Regions from separate parts of the Homo sapiens genome. Here all the other regions are reported to be linked to region 3. The links are microRNA targets in miRTarBase. Many come from high-throughput screens and were not tested one by one. Region 3 holds a microRNA gene; each other region holds the end of a gene's coding sequence.
The links. The annotated mature microRNA hsa-miR-548a-3p reads CAAAACUGGCAAUUACUUUUGC and lies in region 3 at 3,118-3,139, opposite strand. An mRNA with a match to its seed (bases 2 to 7 or 8) in the 3' UTR can be bound and repressed. Matches are read on the target gene's strand: a 7mer-m8 pairs with bases 2 to 8, a 7mer-A1 pairs with bases 2 to 7 and ends in A, and an 8mer does both.

Region 1 (7,120 bases), not on the chromosome of region 3:
CCTTTTCTTTAAAATTCTTGGAAATAGCTCGTTTCACTGTGTATTTTTGTCTGCTCTTGGTACACAAGTAAAATACTACAGAAATTAATTTCTTTCAGCATTGAAGTGTTTGCTTTCCTCTTTATTTCAACTAAGTTGTAATAATTTCTGGTATCCTGGTAATTGATAACTAAGATAATATCTACAGAGTGGATGCCATTAATTCTCTTAGCAGTCACGTGCAGAAGGGAAGGGTTTGGGCCAACCTAGGGTTGTGCTGTCTCTGTCGACTAGTCTAGGAAAGCACCCAGGTGTCAGGTATTTTGGTCCCTTCCACCACACCTCAGCAAATGTAAAACAAGCCCACAGTTAATGGCCCTGTGGCAACCCTGCCCTGGAGAATCTCAATAAGAGCATTTGAAATGAGGAAAGCAAGATTTCACATTTAAATATCTTGCTTTGGCACACAGTTGCTTTTATTGATTAATAAGCAAATAATTATAGGGGAACTACTATTCATCGAATACACTTATTAAAATATTATAGCACCATAAACTATATTGGTATAAAAATGTTTTATTCTTTCTTTTGTAGCAAGCCCAAGATGTAGCAAGCAGTCCACCTGAGAGCTCCTTCCAGAAACTAGCACCCAGTGAATATAGGTATACTCTATTGAGGGATCGAGATGAGCTTTAAAAACTTGAAAAACAGTTTGTAAGCCTTTCAACAGCAGCATCAACCTACGTGGTGGAAATAGTAAACCTATATTTTCATAATTCTATGTGTATTTTTATTTTGAATAAACAGAAAGAAATTTTGGGTTTTTAATTTTTTTCTCCCCGACTCAAAATGCATTGTCATTTAATATAGTAGCCTCTTAAAAAAAAAAAACCTGCTAGGATTTAAAAATAAAAATCAGAGGCCTATCTCCACTTTAAATCTGTCCTGTAAAAGTTTTATAAATCAAATGAAAGGTGACATTGCCAGAAACTTACCATTAACTTGCACTACTAGGGTAGGGAGGACTTAGGGATGTTTCCTGTGTCGTATGTGCTTTTCTTTCTTTCATATGATCAATTCTGTTGGTATTTTCAGTATCTCATTTCTCAAAGCTAAAGAGATATACATTCTGGATACTTGGGAGGGGAATAAATTAAAGTTTTCACACTGTGTACTGTGTTTTACTGATTGGTTGGATATTGCTTATGAAAATTCCATAGTGGTATTTTTTTGGATTCTTAATGTGTAACTTAAACATACTTTGAAGTGGAGGAGAGTCATAAGACAGAACATTTGGCAGGAATTGTCCTTATGAAACAAGAAAAAGAAAATGAAAAGTATTATTAAGCTTCTGTGTTTGTCTAAAAATGTGGCATATGGATGGCATTTAAAACTTTGAATGAATTATACCTAAATCTGGGACAGGGAGGTGACAGTGGAACAGGCTACCAATCAGAACTAGATGACTTTTAAGGCTCCTCCTATTATGAGACTTCAATTTCCAAAGAGAAGAACTAGCAGAGAAATTGTATTTCAGTAATTTTAAGCTCCTTCTGTCTTGTAGAGTCTTGTTATAGTTGTATAAATCAAAAACACAGAATAAGGAACATATTTAACTTTTTTTCATTATAAAATGGTTAGAGGACCCTACCCCCTCTAGATTCCCTGATTTCCCCAGGCCTGCAGCATACAGTAAGATGGGTCCCTGTGCCAGGCCTCAATACTGCCAGGGAATAAAACCAGAGGGAGAGGACCCTCAGTGTCATATCAGGAAGCCCAGTGCCAGAGGACAGACAGGTTCAAAACTGGCTTTTCCTCTGGGCCTGGGTTGGTGCTATAGGCCAAGGGTCATTTTATACTTGGGTATAAATCAATCCCAGTTTGGGAAAAGATTATTTTTAAGCTTAAAAGGCTGACATGTGCCATTATATGTAGTATGTAATATATGTAACATCTTCCAATTCTTTTAAAATAAAATTAATATTTATAATGGATATTTAATGATTGTTATTTTTAAAAACCAGCTTATAATTCCTCGTTATGCATGATTTATCCAAAGTTTCCATAGTTTTATTCAAAATAATAAATGTTAATAAGGTGATAAGGGGTATATTTAATGTATTGTATCAAATTGTGAATAAGAAAGTAGGATGGAGCTTTCTAGAGGTTGGGCCTTAGTTCTGTTATCCTCATTGCTTTTAACCAATAAGTTAAATGAAGTTAGAGTTATGGTCTTCAGGTTAGATTATGGACCAGATCTGTGAGGGTCAGCATGGAAATTCACATTCAACAAGGTAGCACACAGGACCAAGAGCAGCACATGCAATCAACTGGAATAATATAGTAATCCTGTAACTGGGTTTGAAAAAATAATCAACAAAAGATACAATTCAAGGGTTAGGTTGCAGAGAGCTGGCTTGAGAGTAGTTATTATGAAAAAGGCCTCAAGGAGTACGTGTTCAGTATGCTCTAAGATGATAAAGTGGCTGTTAAAAAGGGAGTTGATTTGAGGAAGTATTACTTAGCATTCATGCATATTGGGCTTAGGCTCTAGCCCTGCCACTATCATTGTCTTCTCTGGACTGTGAAGTCACTGAGGACAAGGAAACTAAATTTAATGTCTGTATCACTAGTGCCTAGAATTTCTGGACACTTAGTAGTCACCATCAGGCGTTTATTTAATGAATGAGAAGCAAAGTGACCTTGGTTACTTTTTTACCCTGAGGGGCTCAGCACTCATTAGGACTTGGTGCCTAATTTTATAAAAAGTCACTAAGCTCAAGTGCTTGGATGAAAGGACAGCGTGGATAAAAAGGTTTTTAAAACATGGATGTTAAGGCTGTTTTGCTTGGAGAAGACTTGGGACTGGGACAGTCTTTAGATATTATTTGAAATGCTGGCACTGTCTATCTGGATCCCAGGGCTTGAACTAGGATTTGAGGAAGTCACAGGGAAGCAGATTTCAGTCTGACATTTATTCAGTGCAAGTTTTTTGGTGCTGTAGTATATGATGAAAGATGTAAAGCTGAATAAAGCATTATTTCTGCCCTAGAGTTGTTCACAGCCTAGTCAGGCATATGGATATGTAAACAATGACTGTAACGTGTTATAGATGTAAAGACAAAATAAAGGTTAAAGAGGGCATAAAGGAGCACTCAATTGCAGAGATTTGAGGACATTATTTTTATTTTGAGCTTTAAAAAGATGAATAGGTGTTCTCAGGAGGTAGGGATCTGGCTGAGAGGGAATAATCTGAGCAAAGGTATGAAACAGCCTAATGCATTAGAGAAAAAAGTTCTTTTAGTAAGGCATTTGGGGTTGGGGAAGCTAGAAAAAGAAATGGGAGCTGGTCACACAGGGCCTTGTGTGCCAGACTAAGGGGTTTGTAGTATATATTGTAGGCAGAAGAGATCCATCAACAGATTGCAAGCAAGGAAGTATGTTCACTTTAAAGTTTGAGAAAGAATAGTGTGGAAGCACGTCTCAAATTTAGACTTGTTCCCCCTCTGAACCGTGAATCAGACCATTTCAGGTAGAAGTCTTCCCCGGTTTATCTGATCTACTCGGGGCCTCAGGCTTCTCAGCTGGGAAGAGAGGATGCAAGACCAGACTGAAGAACACGGTTGAGTCCCCAGAACCAAAAGGGGGCCTTTCTGCTTCTTAGCCAGCTACCTCTTCGAGTTTTTCAAATTGTGAGGGGGACCATAAAAGGATGGAAACTTTTAGATGACATTCTACAAATTATTTTTTTCTTTAAATTAAAAGAACCTAGCCAATAAGATAGAGAATGGGCATCTAAGGCATCTCAGAGCTCTCTGATGAAGCCAGGTTGTCAAAGATCATTTGCAAAAGAAGGGAAAACTGGCATGACAAAAGCTACAGAGAGGAGAGTGAAATATAGAAGTGTTTGAAATGTTCAAGCTCACAATAAGCTTAAATTTATAGAAAATGCTAAGGTTGTCAAGAAGGCTTTTTTTTTTTTCTTTTTTAAACCTGAGGGCAAAAAGGAATGGATAAAGTAGTGTAATGGATTGACAATCAGGAAGAACAGAATAACTCAGTTTTTTTTCTCCTACAAGGAGATATGGCTGGACCAAAATAAAATGACATGAAACTGCAAAAATGAAAAGTAAAAAAAAAAAAATTGTTGTCACCTTAAATGATTTCAAGGTTGTTAGACCCACACTTCTGTATCCTAGAGAGCTGCTGGAGGTTGCAAATGCTTTCTATTAACAACTGTTGGGAATTTTTGAGAAACCATGGAGAATGTAAGGTGACAGAAGACTGGAAATGAGCAAACGTACTGCAGTTTTCAAATCATTAGCTAATAGCTTTAGCTATTTTTCTAAAATAAAACCTCATGAACCAAACAAATGTTAGTACTCTGTATTTGGGGGAAAGATTTAAATAGCTGTAAAGAACAAAACAGTTATCTGTTTTTAAACCCATTATTTGAAGACCCTGAAGACAGTAAGTTGTTTCAGGACTCAAGTTTTATGCTGATAATAACTTTATGTTCATTAAACCAGGTTGGATAGGACCTCTGCTTAGCAACTGTTTTTTAGCTGTGTTTGAATTTTTGTATGTATTTCCAAGTAATAAAATTATATTTATAAAATATTTCTATATTGGAGACTTTTTACTAATTCACTTTGTTATAAATAACATCATATTGTAAACCCTTTACTCAGAATCTAGATGACCACAGTTGCTAGATTTTTCAGATTTAAAGTTATTTCCCAGGTAATTTAATTGTACTGATCAGAATGGGAAGCTATATGAATCCATGTGATCACTCAAACCCAGCCTTTCATTGAAGCAAGCATCCAAGTTCCCTCTTGAAGAACACACTGGGGAAAGGCTGGCCTGCCCTTAAACAATAGGTTTTGGAGTCACCAGAAGAGGAACAGTGCAGCTTACAAATTGCTTCTCTAAAAGACCCCTTCCCCCAACCCTGCTTAGTAAATTCCTCCTATTCATCCTTAGTGCCTAATAACACTTGTCACTCCCTGTGATCCCACAGTCCTTTATGGATTTTAGAGTACCCAGTCTAATTCAGAGTTAGAAGTGTACGTATCTCTCTTCCTTATCACTGTGTGAATGCCCTGAAAGCACGAACTCCTCTATCTTTGTAATCCCAGCACTTGGTGACACTGAAAGTACTCAGGAAATCTCTGATGGAAAAAAAAAAAAAGGCCAAATTAAATAATAAGTATGTGAGCAAATGAATAAAGAACAAGAAAGCATCGCCGTAAGTGGAATGAGCTCTACTGGTTAATCTGCAAATCTCAATTATCTGATGATTCTGTCCATCACAAATCGTGTTTAGGTGAATCTAGTCACCTTTAATCCTGTATCTGAATCCGGCTTTGGGGTCCTAAGAGTTTTTGTCTAGAATAGATTAAAATCTTACAGTGCGCACCAACCCAGAGATACATAACTATCAGAATGACATCTGAATACCCTCTTGGGTAATGCAGAGTCCTGCAGAGGTGCTGGAAAATTTCTGAACTCCACATTTGCTGTGAGGTAAACCTGACCCCTAGCTTGGCCTCACGGAGCAACAGACTTGAGTTGACAAAATATCCCTGTTGTGGTTTTCAAAACACCATTCATCTGCCATTCAGCAAGCATTATCTACTGTTTCCAGGCTACAGATCTAACAGTAAGGAGACTGTACCTACCATCAAGGAGCTGAAAGTTGAGTGAAGGAGCAAAATAGATGTGTAAATAATGGAATGTTGTAGGTGCTAGGATGTGAGTTAGTCGCAGAGAACATGGAGGTAGGTGTGTACAGCCTTGGGAATTGGGAGTCTTCCTAGAGGAAGTGCTTTCTTGCTCAGAATAGAAAGAGCTATACTTTCCTAAGCACATCAGGCTCTTCTCCAGGAGAATTGTTATTAATAAAGACTGTCATTATTCTATTATCTTACTGTAATAAAAGTATTGTTAGGTATTGCTGACCTGTTTTTTTCTCACAGTTCTAGTCCTCTCAGGTAATAACAACATGTCCCATGTGTTTTACTTATTGCCATGGCTACCAGGGAAGAAACCACATGCCTACTGTCCTGGTGCCCTGTATAAACTTGCCTACATAGGATTAGATCAATATTAGAATCCTGATGCCTTGTTTTCTTGCCCTAGCTACTGCCTAGGAAGGGGAATAGAACATGGCATTCCTGGCTATGCACACAGCAAGGATTATAGAACAGGTCATCAATTCTGAGTGATCAATTCTGACTTCAGAATGAGCACGGCTTTCTGATTTAAAACACTAAGTGTCCATTTCAGAAATTTTCCAGGATTCAAAGGTAAATTTCCTGGTCTGTGGCTTCTGGAATCCAGCTTTTACGCCTTAAATTTAGCCTTTTGCCCAAGCTCAGTGTTCTGGAACATTTTCTATTGTCTTGTTTTTCACAATTACTGGTAGTAATTTAACTTGCATGTATACGTTCCCACTAACGTTGGGATTTTGTTTTTTATCTGAGCCTAGAAATGATCAATTCTTTTAAAATATAGATGCTCTTTTTTTTAATAATGCCACACTTATTTTCATTGCCCTTATTACTAAGGTGACCATGTAATTGTATTCATCCAAATCAGGACATTGAGATGAAAAGGGAGCATTAGTAATTTCACCAGGACAACAGATGTAAATCAGGACTGTCCCAGACAAACTGGGATGTATGATCACCCTGCTCCTAACCAGATCTTACATATTTTCATGTTTGGATATCATTCTTAATAAAGATGAAAAAGATGCACTTTCTACCAGGCATCTGTCATCTTTGAACCGTCTTAATAAAGCCTTTTGAAAAAATCATTTTAAGGATTCTTAGTGTATTTCTCAAGTCTCCACTCATTTTAGGTGTCTCCCTAACACTATTCTTGTAGGTACATGATACCTTTTTTAAATTAATGTGCATTTCCTTTAAACTTTGGGAAAAAATAGTAACAATTCTAACAGTAACAGCAACTAACATTTGCACAGTTAGCAGAAGCCAGGCACTATTCTAGGCACTGAATATGAATTTAGTCTTTTAATCCTCATAACCACCCTGTGAGATAGATAGCAAGGTGTCAAGGTAGGAAGAAGAGTTAAGGACATCCTGAATTGTTGACCCCCAGTGTACCCTGATAA
Region 2 (7,120 bases), not on the chromosome of region 3:
AGTAGTAAGGATAATGCTTTGGGAGTTTATAGGCAGAATGACTGGGGAAAACTACATGAAGAGTGTGAATATGAGTAAGTTTTAGGTGAAGAACATGAGGATGAGAGCATGCAAAGGCACTGAAGCAAACTTGAGTTGTTTAGGGGATAGTGAGGAGACCACTGCAACTTCAGAAATCTTTTAGGAAAACGAGTCTGTCACTACGCTTAATTTGATTAATGGACCTATTGGGAGGTAGACTATGTAGCAGTAGGAAGAAGTACAATACTCCAGCAAATGGGAAGAACTCTGTAGCAATCATACTGATAGATACCCCAAAGAATCAGGTATTTTGTATTTAACGTTTTATTTGGGCATCAGTATAAACAAAACTATATTAAGTGTCACTGTAAATTTTGGGCATAAAAAACAGAAATTTTCAAATCTGATTAGAAAAATTAATCTGATTTTGAAAATTAACTTTGTTTACAGCTGAAGAGCTCACTCATTATGCTTCAGAAAACGTTTGATCTACTAAATAAGAATAAGACTGGCATGGCTGTTGAAAGCTAGTGATCTGAAGGACTAAAACCGCAGAGATACTTGGAACTTAAAGAAAATACCTGGAAGAAAACCAGACGAATGAAGGATTTTGGCATAGAACATTTCTATGTTTTTTCATTATTGAGATTTCTAATATGAACATTTCTTTCAGTAACATTTATTTGATAATTAGTTTCTGCTGGCCTTAATAATCCATCCTTTCACTTCTTATAGATATTTTTAAGCTGTGAATTTCTTCAGTGAACCATGAAATATATTATAGAACTGAATTTCTCTGATACAAAAAGAAAATGACACACCCTGAATTGAGTGGTATGGTCTCATTTCTACAGTGAAGTCTGATGCTTTGTTAGCACAGAATCCGTACATGTCCAATAGGTCGCTTTTGTAACTGAGATAAGACCAAGAGGATAAACAGGACAATATAAGAAGAAACCTCTATGTCATTACTGATTTTAAAGGTTCTGTTTTCAGGCATATAACATTTCCAGGTTTGTGTACTGTAAAGATTATAATGTCTTCATTTATTTAGCATGCAAATTTAATAGTCAAACTTTTTGAATCTGCATGTTGATGATGATTATCAGAAAGGGTCTTCTGCCATGCTGTATCTTTATGAAAGAAATAGTTGTTTTTTCTTAAGGTAACTATCAGAGGTGGGATTATCTTGCCTCCTCACTTAGAATACCAACAGTCAAAAGGAAGAACCATCCTCTGAGTTTTAAAAACCAGAAGGTTATGTTAAAATCTGGGCATTTAGTGACAGATCAAATGCATACTTGAACTAAGATTGGCTTCAGCTTAGCAGTCTTTCATGGTGGAAGTGACACATCTGGTTGAAAATAATTTGTGTATTTTCAGTAACCATGTATGGCTTCCTTCTTTATGTATGTGTGTGACTTGTTTTGATTGGTAAGTTATAAGCCAGACATAGATTTTAGCTCTTTAATAAAAACTTCAGGGGCACGTATGTCCCAGTACAAGTGTACTGACTATCAAGTTTTAACTCAGATGCAAGCTTTGGCTCTTTCATAAAAAGTTTTTATGCATATGTGTCTCCATACAAGTGGCTCATTAAAATAAGAACTTTGTAAACTGACTTAAAATCAGATATTTTTTCAAGAGTTAGGGAAAGTTGAAGTGTTTTACTGTTTTGTCTCTTGAGCCCTTTCTCTGGGGAAAAAATACATATCCATCTATCTATCTATATATAAACTGTGTATACATTCTTACTGTTTGAACAACTATTGCCTTTAATTAAATGTTTCATTTTTCTCCAGAGTCCCCAAAGCCACATGGCATTATTATAGTCATTTTTGAGATGCCTGTAGAGAATGAAAGTATTGACTCCGTTAGAGGGAAAATGGGTTTCTCTGGGTGAATTCCAACGAAGCATACCTAGGGGTAACAGTGAACCTACCTGGGTTTGTTTTGTTTTGGTAAGGATTTATGTAGTGTCTGGCTGTAAGCAAGAATGAGTGGATTATAAACTTGAAGATTTCTCTGTTAAAGTCACAAAAATGATCGACAAACAATATTTTTGTGATGTTTATTTAAACGTTGTATTTTATAACATACTTCAAGGAAGAGTATCGAAGTAAGTTGCTTTATAAATTAAGACTAAATTCGTATGGATGCAGAATTCAATTAATAAAATTTGAGCCTGTTACGTAAATTGAATATTAATAAAATTGAAAATTTCTGAGTTGTAGTTTTTCTTCTTTTTCTACTTAAAAACAAAACTAGAAAGCCTGCGGTAGTGAAACGTGTACATGGGCCCACACTCTTTAAAGAAATTTTGTGCAATAATAAAACCCAAAAAGGACTCTCATCTCAGGGCAGTTTCATCTCAAATACACAGACGACTGGAACAAAAGTACTAGCGAGGCCTGCTGGTCCAATGTAAAGGCTGCTAGCCAGAAATCATGAAACGAACAGGTTGCTAAATGAACAGATCCGGCAGCAGTGATGGGCCTTTAAGAGAAGGTCAGCGAAACTGGGGGAGGTACTTGGATAACATTTTGCGGTGGAAAGCTCCCTCACCGCCTGTTGCCGGAGTCTGAATGAAGGCTGGCGGCTCCACGGTCTCACGTAGTTCGGAAATCCTCCGGGTTCCCGGGTTTCCCGTATTTCCGTCTCCGCACCTCGTCCGCACCCCGGGGCTCCGGAGGCTGTCCCACCGGCGCGCCGCCCGCAGGCACCGGCGGCGCCCGGCTGCCGCCTCTGGGGCGGGGCGGGGCGTGGCGTGGCGGGGCAGGCCGGAGGTGCGGGACCCACCTCCTGCCCCTGCCTCCTGGACGCGCTCTCGGGAGCCGATTTTCCCCTTCCCGGCGCCAGGGCCGCGGGCCAGGAGGAGGAGCCTCGCCCGCGGGCACCGCGGGGAGGCGGGCGGCGCACGTGCGGACAGGCGGGGAACCCCGGCGCCGGGGGCGGGGCACCCGGAAGCGCGCGTGGACCTGGCGCACCGAGCCGGGCGGGCGGAGGGGCGGTTGGGACGGCGCGGGGAGGCGGGCGCGCCGCCCGGGCCGCGGCGGGCTGTGGTCACAGGTGGGCGGCTGCGGCGAGGGAGCGGCCGAGCGGAGCCCGGGTCCCGGAGACTCCTGCCGTCACGCCCGGGGCTCCGCGTAGCAGAGATCGGGAGACGCGTCTGTGCCTCCGGGGAAGCCGACCCATCTCCCCTCCGCCTCTTTGGCTGCAGTTGCACCTCCGGCCAGAGGGCAGGTAACTTCCCTTCCAAGGTCATTCTCCTGGCGGGGTGGTGCGCGAGGCCCGCCCACGTCCTCCGGATTGGCGGGGGCGGGAGAGGCGCACCCTGCAAGGGGCCCGACCAGTTGGGCTGGACCGCGACCCCTGAGCACTGCCAGGGAGCCTGGTGTGTCAGCCGCTGCTAGCGGGCATATGCTTCGCCTTTCCCTATAGCCCCGAGGCTGAGTTCCCACCAGCGCCCAGGCTTGGAGCGGAGACCGCTCGGCCCTCCCAGCCTGCACCCGCAGGTGAGCGCAACCGCCCGCGCCCCGGCTGTCCCGGACGCGTGGTCGGCTGTCGCCATAGGAACGGCTGGTGCCCAGACGGCGCCTGCCCAGGCTGGGAAGGGGCGGTGAAGGCAGCTCAGACCTCCAAGAACCCTGGAGCCCCCTGTGTGGCCAGGCGGAGCCACAGAAGCCTGATGAAAACGGGACCCCCTCCCCCTCTCTCTTCTCATTTTTGATTGCTCAGGCGTTGGAGGTTAAGCAGAGAGAGAGAGGCGTGGACCTATTTACGAGATGTAAGTTGTGTTCTTTCCACCTTTACCTTCTGAGGGCTTCTTACGCCTCATGGTGACAGGTGCAAATCATGACACAGAAGGGCAGTATGAAGCCTGTGAAGAAAAAGAAAACCGAAGAACCTGAATTGGAGCCCCTGTGCTGCTGCGAGTACATAGATCGGAATGGGGAAAAGAACCACGTGGCTACTTGTTTGTGTGATTGTCAAGATCTGGATGAAGGGTGTGATCGGTAAGAACAGAGCATTTCTTGACGCTGGCCCCATCACCCTTCTGAGAACTGCCATGTGTACTTTCAACCTAGCCACCCAGAATGCTAGAATTTGCTCTTGATTCTATTTCCAAGCATCTAAAATGAGAGTTGGCTTCTGTGTCAAGTGTGAGGATTTTAGAAAGATGGATTACGCAGTAGTGCACAGCTGTCTGTCTGCTCTGTTTTATAGGATATTATTTTTCGTTTAAAGAGAGATGAGGGAGAGAACAGGCAGTTTAAAGGGATAGTAGGCAAGTTAGTATAAAATAAAATGCAAGCCAGCAGAATCTGTAAGTTTAAAATGAACACAATAGTTCCAGAAAGTTCCTGCCTTCTCAGAGGTCTCAGCATTTAGAGACTGACTACTTGGGACTGGGTGGCACCTGACCACAGAGGGCCTTGTGGGTTGAAATTTCATTTTCCTGCTGTTAGTACTGGTCTTGCCCCTTGTTTCTGGGGAGGAACTCCAGCCAGAAGGCATGTATCTCCCCTGGATTCACAGTTTTCAGTGCGACCAGCAACACTCTTGATTGATCATACTGTATTTGGCTTTTATTTTCCAAGTGATGGAAATTACTATCCAAAAAGAGAATTTTTAACATCACTGAAAAAATTTGGTGTCGGACAGTGAATAATCTGGTTTTAATCCATTTTCTGAGTAATTATATATTTAAAAATCACTGTCAATGGAAGTCATAATGTGGGAAGGATAGGGATGTTGGAAACTTGCTTTTCCCATTAATAATTATTTCTGGTTAAAAAAGTCATTGCAACTGCCAATTTGTTGACTTAGAACTTGATACATTAATACAGCCATGAAAAGCATTCCCTGGGGTCTGCAGTCTAGTACCAGCCTTGACTATTAAAAACCCAGTGAACCCTTTGTCGTTCTTACTTGACAGTGTACTGTGTAGTCTTTTTTATGGATGTCTTTGAATATAGGTTCTTTAGATTTAGTCTGAAATCTATACTGAGAAAATAGAGCACTTTGCACTAATGAATGGAGAAATGATGCTGTTTCCATAACCACCATCACTCAAGACCGCAGCTCTTCCATTAACCTTGCTAACTCTTCCTCCCTCCTAGCCCTGGAGACCTTGGCTGTCCCCTGAGGCATCTCCTCTGCTCTCTCTGTACCCCTCTCCTCTGTGTTTCCACCGTGCCTGCTGCTCTGTATGATTCCCAATTAGTTATCTCTAAGTTCTAGTCTTACCTTTAAAAATTGTCTAAAATCAAAGTTACCTTTCCTTAAACTCTACCTTTTCTTACTAGCCTGTCTTAATTTGTTCAGGCTGCTATGATAAAATAAATACCTGAGACTGGGTAATTTGTAAACAATATACATCTATTGCTCACAGTTCTAGAGGCTCAGAAATCCAAGATCAAGGCACTGGCAGATTCAGTGTCTGGTGAGGGCCCTTTTCCTCATAGATGACACCTTCTTGGTGTGTCATGACATGGCAGAAGGGGTGAATAAGCTCATAGGGCTCTATTATAAGGGCACAAGTCTCATTCATGAGGGCTGTGCCTTCATGACCTAATCACCTCCTTAAGGTCTCACCTCTGAATACTATTGCATTGGGAATGAGGTTTCAACATAATGAACTTTGGAGGGACACAGATACTTCCTGGCTCCCTAAAATTTATGTCCTTCTCACATGCAAAATACACTGATTTCATCCTAATAGCCCCAAAAGTCTTAGCTCATCCCAGTGTCAATTCAGAAGTCTAAGTCCAGAGTCTGGTCTGAATATCATCATCCAAATCAGATATGGATGAGTTTCAAGATACGATTCATCCTGAGACAAGTTCTCCTCCACATGTGAGCCTGTGAAATCAAACAAGTTAGGTGCTTCCACAATACGATGGTAGGACATGCATAGAATAGACATTCCCATTCCAAAAGGGAACAACAGGAAGAAAGGAGTGTTACTGACAGGTCCTAACCCAGTGGGGCAAACAATGTTAAGCCTTAATAAGGCTTGAGAATAATCTTGGACTTGATGTCCTGCCTTCTGGACACACTGGGTTGGCGGTTGGGCCCCCAAGGCTCTGGGTGTCCCCGCCACCACAGCTTTGTTGCGCACAGCCCACACTGCAGCTCTCATGGGTTGGAGTTCCTACAGGTGCCTCCAGCTCTCCCAGGCTGGAGTTGTATGCTTGTGGCTCTACGGGGCTCTTGGGGGTGACCCTGTCCCCACAGCTCCAAGCAGGCATTGCCTCAGTGGGGTCTCTCTGTAGTGGCCCCACCACAATGACAGCTCCACTGGGCAGTGCCCTAGTGGGGGCTCTCTGTGGTGGCCCCACCCCTGTGGCAGTCCTCTGCCTCGGTCCCGAGGCTCTCCAGGGCATCCTTTGAAGTCTAGGTGGAGGCAGCCAGGCCTCTACAGCTCCTACACTCTGGATGCCTGCAGCATTGGCACCCTGTGGATGCCACCAAGATTTACCACCTATGCCCTTCAGAGGGGTGGCCTCTATGGCATACCTAGGCCCAGTGGAGCCACACCTGGAGCTGCCATGGAGGGTGCACCAGAATGTAGGGAGCAGAGACTTCAGATGGCACTCAGCAGTACACCCTGAAGCCCCATGGGTGCCCTGGGCCCTCTTATGAAACTGTCTGCCCTCAAAGCCCTGGCACTTCAGGTTTGTGGTGGGAGCAGCAGCCCCAAGGATCTCCGAATGCCTTCAGGGTCCTTCCATTGTCTTGATGACTGGCACGGGGCTAATCCATACTGATCTCATCTACATCCTTGCTGTTCTCTCCCAAACATGCTTTCTCATTTGTTACAATATAGACAGGCTGAGAATTTTCCAAATCTTTGTTTTACTCCCCTTTTGATTATGAGTTTTGTCTTTAAATTATTTCTCTTTGGCTGGGCGCGGTGACTCACACCTGTAATCCCAGCACTTTGGGAAGCCCAGGTGGGCAGATCACCTGAGGTCAGGAGTTCAAGACCAGCCTGAACGACATGGAGAAACCCCGTCTCTACTAAAAATACAAAATTAGCCAGGCGTGGTGGCGCATGCCTGTAATCCCAGCTACTCAGGAGGCTGAAGTAGGA
Region 3 (7,104 bases):
AATCAGAGCTCAGCAGTAATACAGAAATATCTTAAAAAGCTGCTCCCATTATAATGCAATTGAGAATATTCCATTGAATATTGTTTATATGTTGCTTTTTATCATAACTTCTGTTATTATTACGAGCTCAACATATGTTGCTAAGCCCACAGGAAGTAGCCACGTCTTTTCTGTTCTAGGGCTCCATGGAAGTTCTTTATTTTGGCTTCTGTAAATAATAAAAAGGAGTGAGCCAAGACATCACTCTACCTTTGTTTAGTGAAGTTAGTTTTCATTGAGATACAGCCACAAGTTGCCCTATAACCAAGAAAACAGGACAGTGGCTATTATAAGAAACCTGCTCTTTCAGAAAGCTCTAGTAATACACAAAATGCTTAATACATGGTATAGGGGAGCTCTTTTAAAATACTGTTTTATTTTGGAAAGTGAATCTATGATATTGACAATTAAAATTTGTTTTCAATCTCTATGCGTAAAGCTCCAGGAAAGGCTTCTGCATAATTTTTTTCTTGCTTTTTTAAAAATTTGATCTTTTCACTGGTAACCCTTAAGGGTAGGTGTGATCCCATTTTCCAGATGAGACAAGAAAATCAAGTGATTTATTCAGTTACAAAACTCTAGGCTGGGTGCTGTGGCTCACACCTGTAATCCCAGCACTTTGGGAGGCCAAGGCAGGCGGATCACGAGGTCAGGAGTTGGAGACCAGCCTGACCAACATGGTGAAACCCTGTCTTTACTAAAAATACAAAAATTAGCTGGGCGTGGTGGCGTGCGTTTGTAATCCCAGCTACTCAGGAGGCTGAGGCAGGAGAATCACTTGAACCCGGGAGGCGGAGGTTGCAGTGAGCCAAGATCACACCATTGCACTCCAGCCTGGGCGACAGAGCAAGACTCGGTCTAAAAAAAAAAAAAAAAAAAGACCTCTTTAGTAGTGGACACAATTCAAATTTTGATGTGCCTGACTCCAAAGCCCATGCTTTTCCATCTCACTGTACTCTATTACTTCTCCTTAGTAAAGCTTCCAAGTCACTTTTTGGGGGATATTAAGCTTTTTGGGGTTTGAGCTTCCTTCCAACATATGGGAAAACCTGCCCTAATTGACACCTCAGTATCCTTACTGGAAAACACTCTAAGCAAATTCTCATTTCATTCTCAGTAAACCAGGTGTGTCCTACGTAGGAGAAGGCGACTTGGTCCTGTGATGTTCTAACACTAGTTTTCAAATTGTATTAATCCTTAAAACCCTCTGTTCAAATGAAATCTTGCAGGAAAGTCCAACATATAAATAGAACTGCTGTTAGGAGAACACAAGGATGAGCAGTTTACTGAGAGAACCCATCAACTGGAGCTACATTGACAGAGCACCTACATTGATTGAACTCATTGATTGAGCTCCATTGATATGTGCCTCCTCATCACTGTTCTGCTGCATTCACATCATCTCATTTAATCCTCTACTCCACCGTTACTATTCCTGACTTAAGAGCCAGTAGACTGGTTAAGAAGGTTACTCCATGGGTAACTGAGAAGCCTACCAGTTGCTTAAATACATACAGGTTTATTTTTTTCATGGAACTAGAAGTCCAGAGATAGCCAGGCCAAGGTTGATGCAACTGCTCAGTGAAATCAGGCTTTTTCTCTTCCTTTTCCATCACCCTTAAAATGAGGCTTTTCTTTTCATGGATACTGGGTATGCAAATTAGTAGTGTTTGCTACAACAAGATAACAACGTGATCTGAAAAACATCCGGATCTAGGAGTTCTGTAAAGACCTCGCTTTAGTTCCCTGTCACTAAGGTAACTTCCTTGGGCCCCCTGAACTCTGCAGGATCCTTTCATCTGTGTCTGCTTGGTCTTGGAATTCTATTAACTTATCACAAGTGGGCTGTTATCCTTTCTTCTCCCCTGCTCTCTTATTGACCTTTGTTCTGGGTTGCAATTCACTTTCATGATCCCAGGAATAAGCACACATAAGAAATGGAAAATGATCTGTTTCTATTTCTCTTCAGAAACCACTATTATTTTAGAACTTTTCATGTACGATAGCTTATTTAAATGTAAGATTCAGAGATTTTTTTGAGACGGAGTCTTGCTCTGTCACCCAGGCTGGAGTGCAGTGGTGTGATCTCGGATCCTGCAACCTCCACCTCCCGGGTTCAAGCAATCCTCCCGCCTCAGCCTCCCAAGTAGCTGGGATTACAGGCATGCACCACCACACCCGGCTAATTTTTGTATTTTTAATAGAGACAGGGTTTCACCATGTTGGCCAGGCTGGTCTTGAACTCCTGACCTCAGGTGATCTGCCCACCTGGCCTGTCAAAGTGCTGGGATTACAGGCATGAGCCACCGTACCTGGTCAGATGTTTTAACATTTAAACAATGACAATAATAGCAAACAGTTACACAGCACCTACTATAAGCCAAGAGCTGCTATGTGTATATTACAATGCTGTTCCCAGAGCATTATGTATATTAATTTGTTTGATCCTCCAGTAGCCCTATTATCCCCATTTTACAGATGAAGAATGGAAGTACAGGTGATTGACTTCCTGAAAGGCACATGCCAGTAAGGAGTTGGACAGAAATTAGAATCCAAGCAATCTGACTCCAGACTTTTACGCACTATACTGTTGCCTCTAAGCAATTTTAAAATAAACATTTTATAGGTTACAACATGTTGAAATATTAATACAAGTTATTTTAAATGTAGAGAAATAACTGCTAATCTTTAAATTTTACCAACTGCCTAAATATGTTTATTTAAAATTGCATCAATGCTGTGATTTCTGACTGAATATGCTAAGGCAAATTGTTTTATCCTTGTATTTGTAATAAACAGATATGAGATACACATACATGCCTGACATGACAGTGGAGCAGAGTTAATTTTATATCCTTTTAGCAAATACATTTCTAAGGCTGTAAAACTTTTTCTACTTAAAATATTAATAATGGCAACTTAATGTTTCTTGCTATGTATTAGGTACTGTGCTGGGGTAAAGATGGAATGACTTACCTGCTATTCCTTTTATTTAGAGGTGAGTCTATTTCTTTTCCTACTGAATCTGGGTTGGCCAGTGATTTGACACGTAGAATGTGGCAGAAGTATTACGTTGGTGCAAAAGTAATTGCCAGTTTTGCCATTGAAAGTAATGGTAAAACTCGCAATTACTTTTGCACCGACCTAATAACATTCTAGGATGTCTGAGACTCTGTCATAAGAGCCTTGCAGCTTCTGTATACTGTAACATTCATTCTTGGGTCCAGCTTCCATGCTCTAAGGAAACATAAGCAACCTTGAGGAGACTCATATGAAGAGGATCCCAGGCTCCTGGCTGAGCACCCAGCTGACAGGCAGCACAAACCTGCCAGTCACTCAGGTGAGTTCTTTGGGGAGTATATTCTCCAACTCCAGCAGAGGCCAAGAGGAGCAGAATGAGCCAATACCACTGAGCTCTGCCCACATTATTGATTTGTGAGAAAACTGAATGATTGTGGTTGCTTTAAGCACAAAGTTTGGGGGTAGTTTTTTATGCAGCAATAGATGGACAGAACAAGTGCTAAGGCCTTTACACGTTATCTTTATTCCTCACAATGATCTTATGAAGAAGCTATTATCCTTACCTCAAGATGACAAAGCTGAGGCTCAGTGAGTTGGCATAATAATCCAGGTCTGTCAACTCCAGCTTGATAGATATTTCTCCTGATAAATCTTACTTCACTTTATGATCCATCTTATTCACAGCTGTTGAGTCAGGCACGACTAAGGTTAAATCTTAGTTCTGCCCTTATTGGCTATATGACCTTGGATAAATAGAAGGTAAGTTTGTTACTTCACAGGACTGTGAAGATTCCAAGGATACATATAAAGAAATTGGCAGGTGATAGGCACTCAACAATGGGCAAATATTATTGCTTTGAAAATTCCTATAATGCAGAAGCAGCTGGTGGTAAAAGGCTCGCAGAATAGCATTTGATGGTGTGAATACCATCACGGTGTGGGATGCACTCATTTAGGAGCAGGCACGTGCAAAAATGTCAGAATGGCCTGACTTCTAATAGGAAAAAACCTCATGACATCACATGATGGTAAACCATGTATGCATACATGGCCTATGTTTACCTGTATGTATAACATAATATGGGTATATAATTGATTTAAGTCTAGAAAATTCCCGACTAAACAGCTATGTCTGTTACTTCATTTTAAGATTCCTTCCAGCTCTAAAATTCTGTGAATTTTACTTAGCATCCTTTGTCTACCTTGAATGTTGATTACCTTAGGAAACAAATGCAATCACAGCCAGCTATCAGCTCATGCCAATAACTATATACAATTTGCAATTTGTATGCTATTCCTGAAGAAGAGTTCAGGTATTCAGAGAAAAGGCCTTTCTCTCTACTGCCTGCTTCTACTAATTTTTAAACAGGGACCTTCCTGAGTAAAGCAGGTCCTATCAAGTTGCTGTCATCTTCTCCCCTGGAAATTTGGGGGAAAAGGTGTGAGGGAATGGTGGAGCAGGTGAAAGGAGGGCCGCTGTAAACTGCTGTGAACATTGCTGGGTCTGTTGTAGGTGCTCAATAAACACTTAGAGAATTCAATGAACTTGTTCTTCCTTTATCCCATTTAGCCTGTCTTACCCACTTATTTCCAGATGAACAGTGGATGACGGTGGTAAGCAGTAGTGAGAATTAAAACCTCAACAGCTTATTGAAAGACCCCTTCATCCTGTGCTTTTATATTCTTAGTGCTAGTGTATGACATGAGCCAGTAACAGGGCTTCTGGCCCATAGATCCCTTCTGATAACAGCTCCTTTTGTTTCCATTCTCTTCCCTACTAATATTGGTGCTCTGACTGACAAGACAAAGGACTGTATCCTGTTGAGAAGATCTAAAATCTGAGTAACTCCCACTAAAATCTGTATCCTGTAAAGAAATAACACACTTTCTAAAAGTGCTCTTGGGACATTTAAAAATTGAAAGACAATAACCGCCCCCCCAACACATATACTCTTAACATTCTGTTTTTGATGCCATAAAATGAAAAGAATCAGAAAACAAAACTAAGACTCACACCAAAAAATTATCATTATCTAGAAAAAAAAGCAAAGAAAAAAACTTCTTTTATACAACTTTTGGATTAAAGAAGGTATCAAAACTGAAACTTAAGAACATTTAGAAAATAACAGTAATGACATTAATGCAGCCAAATGATTCGCCTTAAGCAGTGCTCACACTTAAGTCCATGTCTTCATCTCTTCTTAAGAATTAAGAAGTAAAAATAAATTACATGCTAACTCGAGTTAGAAAAAAACAAAATAAACCAAGGAAAGCAAAATGTGGAAAACTTATTAAAGTGGAAATCAACTAATTAGAAAGAACAAAATTACAGAATAGAGACATCCAAGCGGTTTGGGGAAAATAAAAAAATACACAATTAAAAAAGTAGGTAAACTGTTAGCTACCTTTATCAAGAAAATAAGGGAGAAACTTTGGGAGGCCGAGGCAGGCGGATCACGAGGTTAGGAGATCGAGACCATCCTGGCTAATACGGTGAAACCCCGTCTCTACTAAAAATACAAAAAAATTAGCCGGGCCTGGTGGCGGGCGCCTGTAGTCCCAGCTACTTACGACGTTGATGCAGGAGAATGGCATGAATCTGGAAGGCAGAGCTTGCAGTGAGCAGAGATCGTGCCACTGTACTCCAGCCTGGGCGACAGAGCGACACTCCGTCTCAAAAAAAAAAAAAAAAAAAAAAAAAAAAAAAGAAAATAAGGGAGAAAGCATAATACAAACTAAGGGGCAACATCCACATGCATAGAAGACGAAGAGTTAACTTTCCTCAACTAGGCAAATAAATTTGAAAACTTGGGATTAAATGGATGGTTCCTGATCCAGATAGGATATAAAAACTACATGGATTAATTACCTAGATGATACCAACAAAGTTGTCAAAAAGCTGCTTGCCAAACATCCATGAAACCCAGATAATTTCACTGAAATTTTAAGAAACAGAAAATTTCAATGCTATTTAAACTGTTCTAGGGCATTGTAAAAGGAGGGAAGTTTCCAAATCCACAAGCATAAAATACTACACTTCTCAAAGTGAACACGTGTATGCATGCACACACAAACTATAGACTACTGATTAATACAAGTGCAAATATCCTAAATAAAATATGAAGTGCAGTCTAGCAATATATTAAAAAAATACACATGGCCAAAAAGAATTTATTTAAAGAATGTAATGATAGTGCAAAATTACAAAATATATTAGTAAAATTCATCTTAAAGGATCAAAGGAAAAAAAATCATATGATCATCTCCACAGATGTCGAAAAGGCATGTGATAAAATTAAACATGCAGTCTTTAAAAAGTTTTAAGACTAGGGATTAGTTGATACTCCTTAATATGATTAAATCTATCTCAACTCAATTCATTATAGCCAGTTATTGAACATTATTTTAGAAGTACTAGACAATGCAATTAAGATACAAAGAGGAATGCAAACTGTAACAATGGTTACATTATCAGTGTTTGCTGATGACAGGACTGTGTAGTTGGCAAACACAAACTAATTAAGTGAAATACTATTAAAAACAACAAAAAAATGGAATCAGGTAGCCAGGTAGAAAATTAACATAAATAATTGGCCTTTACATGCACTAAAATTAGGCAAAATTATAAACAGGATTTCATTAATAAAGGCAATAAAATGTAAAAATTAAAAAAAATAAACTCTTAAAAATGTATGAGATCTCTGTAAAGTGTAAAATTCATCTGAAGGAAACAAAAAAAGATGAAGGGGCATGATTTTTAGATAGTGCACCATGGTTTAGATAAAAAGCTTTAACATGATAATGATGTCAAATTCCCCTAAATTAATCTATAAAATTAAAACTGTCCAAAAAAAAAAAAAGTACCCATGGATGTTTTGTGGAACTCAACAAATTGATTGTCATTCAAATGGAAATATAAATAAGAATATTTGAAACACTTAAAAATCACAGTTATTAAAACAATAAAGGATTGGTACAAAAAGAGAAAAGCAGATCAACAGAAGAAAATACAGTGTAGAAACATACCCAAATAATATGGAAATG
Region 4 (7,120 bases), not on the chromosome of region 3:
CAGCCCTCACCGGACTCTCCACATAGGTGTCCAGGGGCAGCAGCTTCAGCACGGCCTCCAGGAGCTGCGGGATGCCCAGGCCTGGAGGGCAGAGGAGGCAGCACTCAGTCTCCAGCCCGCCCGCCCGCCTGCCTGTCTGCACCCTTCACACTGCAAGCATGGACTTGGGGCCACGGCAGGCCACAGAGGAGCCTCAGAGCCAGGAGCACCGCTCACCCGCCCGCCCTGCCCTGGGGGACCTGGGGCTCGCTCACCGTCTGCACGGATCTCCATGGGCCCACACTGGCAGATGGAGGAGGCCGGGAAGTTCAAGTCCGCAAGAACTAAACAGCCGGGAGGACAGCCCGTGTCGGCACCTATCCCTGCCCTCGGGGTCGGCGCCGCCCGTCCTCCCACCCAGTCATGGCGGCAGATCGTGGGTCACAAGAGGTCTCAGGTCAGCCAGTTGGGCGCCCCCACCGCCGACCGGCCGCAGTCAGATCCGCAGGGCTGGAAGCCACGCGGGGAGGTGGGGAGGGCAAGGTCCCTGCCTGGGAGGCAGAGAGGCGTCAACAGCTGCCCGCGAGGCTGTCGGGTGCTGACCAGGCCAGGGGGCCGACCCGGACCCGGCCGCCTCCCCAGGGGCCAGAGGACGCGCGGCTGCCCGCGATGCCCGGACCAGGCCCCCGGCCACCCAACCCCTGCCCCGGGACCCCAGGCCCCAGGAGAAGAAAAAGCGCCGAACCCTCGGGGGCAGCCCAGACGCGAGGGCTCTCGGGCCGTCTGGGGAGGGACTCCGGGAGAAGCTCGGGCCGGCTCCGCCCAGAGCCCCACGAGGTCTCAGTTCCCTAAAGAATGCGGGGGAGGGGGCTTCCTGCCCGGAAGCCAGGGAGGCCCGAGCAACGCCCACACCCCAGGACGCGGCCCTTCCCGGCCCGGGGGTCCCCGTGCAAGCCTCGCCCTCCTGCCTGTCCCGGGGTGCTCCCCGAGGCCCCGGCCCGCTGCGCTCACCGATCTCGTCCCCGTGCCCCATCCGCGCCAGCGCGTAGAGCAGCTCGGGGGACAGCAGTGCGGGGACACCCTTCAGCGCCACCATGGCCCGGCAGACGGGGCGGGCGGGGCCTAGGGGCGGGGCTTGGGGGCCGGGGCGGGGCCTTACGGGGAGGGCGGGGCTTGGGGGCAGAGGCGGGGGCCTTACGGGGAGGGCGGGGCTTAGGGGCAGAGGCGGGGCTTTACGGGGAGGGCGGGGCTTTATTGGAGGGCGGGGCTTTAGGGTCCCGGGCTTGGGGCTTGGGGACGGGCCGGGCCTAGGGTTCGGCGGGCTGGGGTCCGCTTGCGGCTCAAGGAAGGGCGGGGAGCCCCAGGAACTGGGGACGTGCGGGCTGAGTCGTGGCGTGGGGGCAACACCCAGCCAGCCCACGGGCTCCTCGCCAGGTCCGAGACTCGGGTGCCCTTGCGCTGTGGCCGGGGGCTCCCCAGTGTCCCTACCCGAGCCTCCCACCCCGAGCTCCCTCAGGCCGAAGGGGTTCAACCGCCGCGGCCTCCCCTCATGAGGGTCTCTGCCCTCTGACCACTTCGTGCTGCCCTTAGGCCTGGCAGAATGCCCGGAGCGCACCGGGTCCCTGGGGTCACCATGGTGGGTAGCTGGACCCAGGCCTTCAGCCCACGCTCCTGAGGGACCGGGAGCAAGGGACACGGGAGCCAGGACTTCGGACCCCCTTGGGGGGAGTCCAGGAGGGCAGCCAGGCCCAGCTTCCAGGCTCAGCTGCGAAGTGCCAGGACACCTAAGGGTCCTCCATCATCCCCCGGTGTCAGCGGCCTGCAACCCCCTGCCCAGGATGGCGGCATCCTGACCTTTGGCTGAGCTCAGGCTGGCCAGGCCCTCCCTCCGCGGAACCACCTTCTTCCACATGATTCCCAGCTGGACACCAGCTGTGGGGCTAGCACTGCGGCCCTGGCCCTCAGCCCTGAGGTGACACAAATGCTCTGAGGCCTGGCGGCTCCTAAAAAGTTCTGAAAATCAATCTGTATGTGAAAAATGACAAAGCCGCGTCAGAAAACCAGGAGGAAACAGACGTCTCCATGTTGAACTGCTTGGCCCTAGGAGCCTGTCCCCATGGGAAGTGGCCTGGGCTGCGTCGGAAAAGCCTGGTGGGGCCACCCAGGCTGGCACCCAGCAGCACCTGAACAGCTGGCCCTGGGCCGGCCACTCGGGCAGAGAGAAGACCGGGGCTGCCCAGGGCCTGCCAATGAGGGGTGGCTTTGCACCGAGGCCACCGGGTTTCAGAGCTGTACCTGGGCAGTTTCTACTCCAACTTGTAAGTGGAGAGTCACCGTTTACCCAAATATACAAGGGCAAGAGGATTTTATAGAGATGGGCAAGAAAGTTTTCAGCTTCAAAACCAAATCAGGCCGGGCGCGGTGGCTCACACCTGTGATCCCAGCACTTTGGGAGGCCGAGGCGGGCGGATCACTTGAGGTCAGGGGTTGGAGACCAGCCTGGCCAACATGGTGAAACCCCGTCTCTTCAAAATATACAAAAATTAGCCAGGCATGGTGACTGGTGCCTGTAATCCCAGCTACTTGGGAGGCTGAGGCACGAGAATTGCTTGAACCCGGGAAGCGGAGGGTGCAGTGAGCCGAGATCACTCCACTGCTCTCCAGCCTGGGTGACAGAAAGTGACTCCGTCTCAAAAAAAAAAACAAAACCAACAAAGAAAAAACACCTAATCAAACCCCAAACAATAATGGGGCCAGAGGTCAACTAGCTCAGGAGTGAGTGGAAGCCTCACTCTGAGTCTGGGGTTCCCCTGCCCCGGACAGTGGCACCCCTCCCTCCAGGCTCCCTGGGGCCAGCATGAAGACAAAGTCCATTCCCCAGCCTAAGGGTTGGGTGTCTGTCCCTGCCAAGCTCTGGAACCAGATAACTAGACGCAGCCCTCTGAGATGCGGCTTCCATGCTGGGCCCTTTCTTGGCTTCCAGCCAAGTGTGGCTGACACAGGTATGAACGTGAGGCTGCAGCCAGCCCTACGGATCTCTGAGGTTCCATTGCTTGAAATCAGATTATGGAGGCTGACCCCAGTGCACATGAAAAATTAAACGGAGTGGATTTTCTCAATGTTCAGGCTTCCTCCCTTGCATACTTGAACATTTGGTGCCTATCTATCTCTGCATATTTACTCCAGGCTCCAGGGCCAGTGGTTCATGACCCACGCAGACTCCACGTGCTCCACTCCAGTAAGTGAGCAGGTTCCAGATTCCCTACCCCAAGGGAAGAGCCTGTTATGCCCTGTTGGACCTGAATCAAACTCCCTTTGTACCTGTTTCAGTATTTGTCAAACAGTCCCAGATCCCAAGGCTTATCTGAGGCTTATCTGAAAAGAACATCTCCCGCCTGTTTTAAGGCCAACTGCATGAGAACTCCCACCTGCCCTGGCAGAAGCGAGATAAACCTGCTCCACCCTGAAGCCGGCTCTGAACTAGTGGACTCCAATCACAGCACACAGGAGGACAGACGGGGTGGGTGGGAGTGCAGAGCCAATGCCTCCGAGGCAAGCGGTCGCAGAGCATGCGTGTGTCCCCTTTGCGTGTACATGTAACCGGACACACGGGCGTGGCACCTGCAGCGTTCAGGGAACCAGAGCTCGGCAAAGATCACTGTTCTTCTTTCTTGATGCAGGTGAACCTGTCCTTGGTATTCAGCCCAAGTCCTCAGCGGTGGGGGCTCACACACTCTGCCCACCCAACCCAAGGCCATGACCACAATCTAGACCACCTACGCACACTGAGCTGCGGGGCCAAGTGGAGGAGACACCGGCAAACGCTCTCTGGCGTCTGCACTGAGCTGGGGGCAGGTGGGCTTCCCTGGGGGAAATACCTAGAACCAAGGGCATGATGACATGTCCATAGTATGAAACGTCAGGGCCACTAAAAAGAATGTTATAGGACTGTCATTTAGTGAGAAAATCAAATGGTGAAACATGCCACAACAGGCACAAACCTTCTGGACAGTATGTGCCTTAGCTTGGGCTGCTGTGATGCAGTGGCATGGTCTGGGTGGCTGATAAACACTGACTTTCCACAGTTCTGGAGGCCAAGGCTCCAGGCAGGTTCGGTGTGTGATGAGGCCCACCCTGGTTTACAGACAGCACCTTCCCACAGAGCACTCACATTGTGGGAGGGGTGAAAGAGTGCCCTCAGGGCTCTCCTAAGGGCAGTAATCCCACTGGAGGAGCTCCGCCCCCTCATAGGGCACTAATCCCACTGGAGGAGCTCCGCCCTCTCATAGGGCACTAATCCCACTCAAAGAGCTCCATCTTCTCATAGGGCAGTAATCCCACTGGAGGAGCTCCGCCCTCTCATAGGGCACTAATCTCACTGGAAGAGCTCCATCCTCTCATAGGGCACTAATCCCACTGGAAGAGCTCTGCCTTCTCTTAGGGCATTAATCCCACTGAAGGAGCTCCGCCCTCTCATAGGGCACTAATCCCACTCAAAGAGCTCCGCCCTCTCACAGGGCACTAATCCCAAAGAGCTCTGCCCCCTCATAGGGCACTAATCCCACTTGAAGAGCTCTGCCCTCATAGGGCACTAATCCCACTGGAGGAGCTCCGCCCCCTCATAGGGCACTAATCCCACTGGAGGAGCTCCACCCTCTCTCTCCTAGGACACTAAACCCACTCGAAGAGCTCTGCCCTTGTGACTAGTCATTGCCCAAAGTCCCCCCTCCTAATGCAGTCACGGTAGGGGTTAGGATTTCAACCCAGGGATTTGGGGTGGGGCTGAGTGAAATGAGCCTGACCCAAAGGGATAAATGGAGGTCCCTCCATAGAGACAGGAAGTAGAAGCGTGGGTGCCAGGAGCTGGAGGGAAGCAGAAAAGGGGTTGTTGTTTAACGGGGACAGTTTCCGTTTGGGAAAATGAAAGCTTTCTTGGATAGTCATGGCTGCACAACGAGAACGTACTTAATGCCGCTGAAATGTGCATTTGAAATGGTTCAGACCAGCCTGGGCAACACGGGGAAACCCCGTCTCTACAAAAGGTAAATTTAAACAGTCAGCTGGGTGTGGGAGTGCGCCCCTGTGGTCCCAGCTACTTGGGAGGGGGGGAGGATCACTTGAGCCCAGGAGATTCAAGCTGCAGTGAGCTGTGACTGAGCCACGCACTCCAGCCCGTCTCTAAAACACAGTGGTTAAGATGATCAAGTTGACGTCGTGTGTTCCCACAGTAGAGAAGAATGCAGTAAACTGAACAGAGAGCTCCTTATGACAGAAGTAGGAAGAAAATAGGGTGGGCTCTCGTGAGGAAAGGGCTCGACGTGAGTGGGCGTGGAAGAAAACCATAGACCATGCCTGTGCCCGTGTGCAGGGGTGTGTGGGTGCGTGCACAGAACTCTAGGAAGTCACAAGCCCAGCTGTTCACAGTGGCTACCCTGGAAGTATGATGTGAGGCAACTGACTATACAAACTTGTTTTGTTTGAATGTTGTTCCTTACAGTGAAAAAACAAAAAAGTTTAAAAAAACAACTAACATGACAGAATGCTCATTGCAGACATGACTACAAGGCGTGGTGTAATCTGAATCGCTATCACTTTAATCAGCATCTGTATGAAGGCAGCAGACAGCGTTTCCCTCAGAGCAGCCCCATTCTTCAGCGGCAGGGACACAAGGACCCGCAGGCCCCGCTTTCCGTCCGAGCACAGCATGCCCAGAGGGACCAGCGGGGGCTCCTCAGCAGAATCTTAGATTTAGAAGGTGCTCCAGTCAGGACCCTCACAGGCTGGGTGACGAAGGCTGTCATGCCGTGAGAGGTCGGGCCACGACCACGCAGCAATTGGAGAGGAACTGCACACCACGGACACTGCTCTTGAAAAGAGGATGATTTACTTGCTTCTAAAACTGACAGGCTGCACTTGTCCTCTCCAAGCAGAGGTGTGAAGCAGGGGCAGCTGGTTCTCACTGGTCTTTGAAGTTGGCCTTTCTCTTTTCCACAAACGCGGTCATCCCTTCTTTCCGGTCATCCTGGCAGGAAAAGGAACAGAAACAGAGCTGGACGCGCAGTATCCTCACAGAGCCTGATGCCAATGTCCGCCCGTCTCTCCCTGGCTCTGCCTCACTCATGCTCACAGGGGCCCAGGGGGCCGGGGAGGGGACTCAGCGGCAGGAACACCTGCCCAATCAGAGCTGGGCCTGGGCGCGGGGATTTTCACGGCCTCTCTCTACCAGTCTAGGTGACGGTCATTCAGGAGCCACTGTGTATGTCCAACAAGCTCACATCTAAAGAGCCTCAGATGCACCCATCTTGGTCACTCACCATGTCATCAACTGGATGATGGGTGGCCTGTATCAGGGGCTACTCTGTGTTGGAGTAGGACGTGAGAACTCAACTCTGCATCTGCTTTTCTTACACTGTGTGCACGTGTGTCCCCAGGTGTGCGCGCGCGCACACACACACACACACACACACACACACGCATCTGTACCCCTTCCTCAGGTGCCCAAACCACTTTTAATTTTTATTTTATAGAACAATTAAAACACCGAAGTATGACTTTCTCCCAGTGAAAGACATGAATTAAAATGGTAATCTGGCCGGGTGCAGTGGCTCACGCCTATAATCCCAGCACTGTGGGAGGCCGAGGCAGGCAGATCACTTGAGGTCAGGAGTTCAAGACCAGCCTGGCCAACATGGTGAAACTCTGTCTCTACTAAAAATACAAAAATTAGCCAGGTGTGGTGGTGGGCACCTGTAATCCCAGCTACTCGGGAGGCTGAAGCAGGAGAATCACTTGAACCCAGGAGGTGGAGGTTGCAGTGAGCTGAGATCTCACCACTGCATTCCAGCCTGGACGACCGAGCAAGACTCTGCCTCAAAGGGAAGAAAATTAAAATTATGATGGTAATTAGAGGAATTACTTTAAGTTACTGGCAGAAATCTTATAAAATATTGCTCTAAAGCTTCAGCTTATCTTATTAGAATACATTTGAGCCTATTCCAAATAATTGGAATGATCTAAAAAAACATGGGTAAAATGAGTTACATTTTTTTTTTCAGACAGAGTCTCACTCTGTCTCCCAGGCTGGAGTGCAGTGGCGTGATCTCGGCTCACTGTAATCTCCGCCTCTGGGTTCAAGCGATTC

Region 1: the mRNA of ERP44 is a reported target of hsa-miR-548a-3p. Seed matches in the 3' UTR shown: 7mer-A1 at 932-938, 7mer-A1 at 2,046-2,052 and 7mer-m8 at 4,038-4,044.
Region 2: miRTarBase lists GRAMD1C as a target of hsa-miR-548a-3p. Seed matches in the 3' UTR shown: 7mer-A1 at 1,261-1,267 and 7mer-A1 at 1,542-1,548.
Region 4: the mRNA of ECHS1 is a reported target of hsa-miR-548a-3p. Seed matches in the 3' UTR shown: 8mer at 5,874-5,881.

Annotation. Positions count from the first base shown.
Region 1 is chr9:99,976,167-99,983,286 of GRCh38, reverse strand. ERP44 (endoplasmic reticulum protein 44) reads left to right here. Exons shown (of 12, transcript NM_015051.3): 12 at 574-4,102. The coding sequence ends at 675. Among named protein-coding and RNA genes, the nearest start is that of STX17, 73 kb to the right of the region's middle.
Region 2 is chr3:113,944,927-113,952,046 of GRCh38, forward strand. It overlaps GRAMD1C (GRAM domain containing 1C), which reads left to right. Exons shown (of 18, transcript NM_017577.5): 18 at 472-2,248. The coding sequence ends at 552. ZDHHC23 (zDHHC palmitoyltransferase 23) reads left to right here and starts at 3,087. Exons shown (of 5, transcript NM_001320466.2): 1 at 3,087-3,264; 2 at 3,760-4,037. The coding sequence starts at 3,877. RefSeq lists an enhancer at 2,505-3,005 and silencers at 2,720-3,219, 3,570-3,669.
Region 3 is chr8:104,481,267-104,488,370 of GRCh38, forward strand. It overlaps MIR548A3 (microRNA 548a-3), which reads right to left and starts at 3,199; the gene lies at 3,103-3,199. It overlaps LOC105375691 (a long non-coding RNA gene), which reads left to right. Exons shown (of 3, transcript XR_928507.3): 3 at 2,983-3,021. RefSeq lists a silencer at 1,321-1,521.
Region 4 is chr10:133,356,933-133,364,052 of GRCh38, forward strand. It overlaps ECHS1 (enoyl-CoA hydratase, short chain 1), which reads right to left. Exons shown (of 8, transcript NM_004092.4): 8 at 5,553-6,001. The coding sequence ends at 5,936. FUOM (fucose mutarotase) reads right to left here and starts at 1,087. Exons shown (of 6, transcript NM_001098483.3): 1 at 991-1,087; 2 at 255-323; 3 at 11-81. The coding sequence starts at 1,075. RefSeq lists an enhancer at 316-415 and silencers at 566-1,185, 1,236-1,315, 2,348-2,510.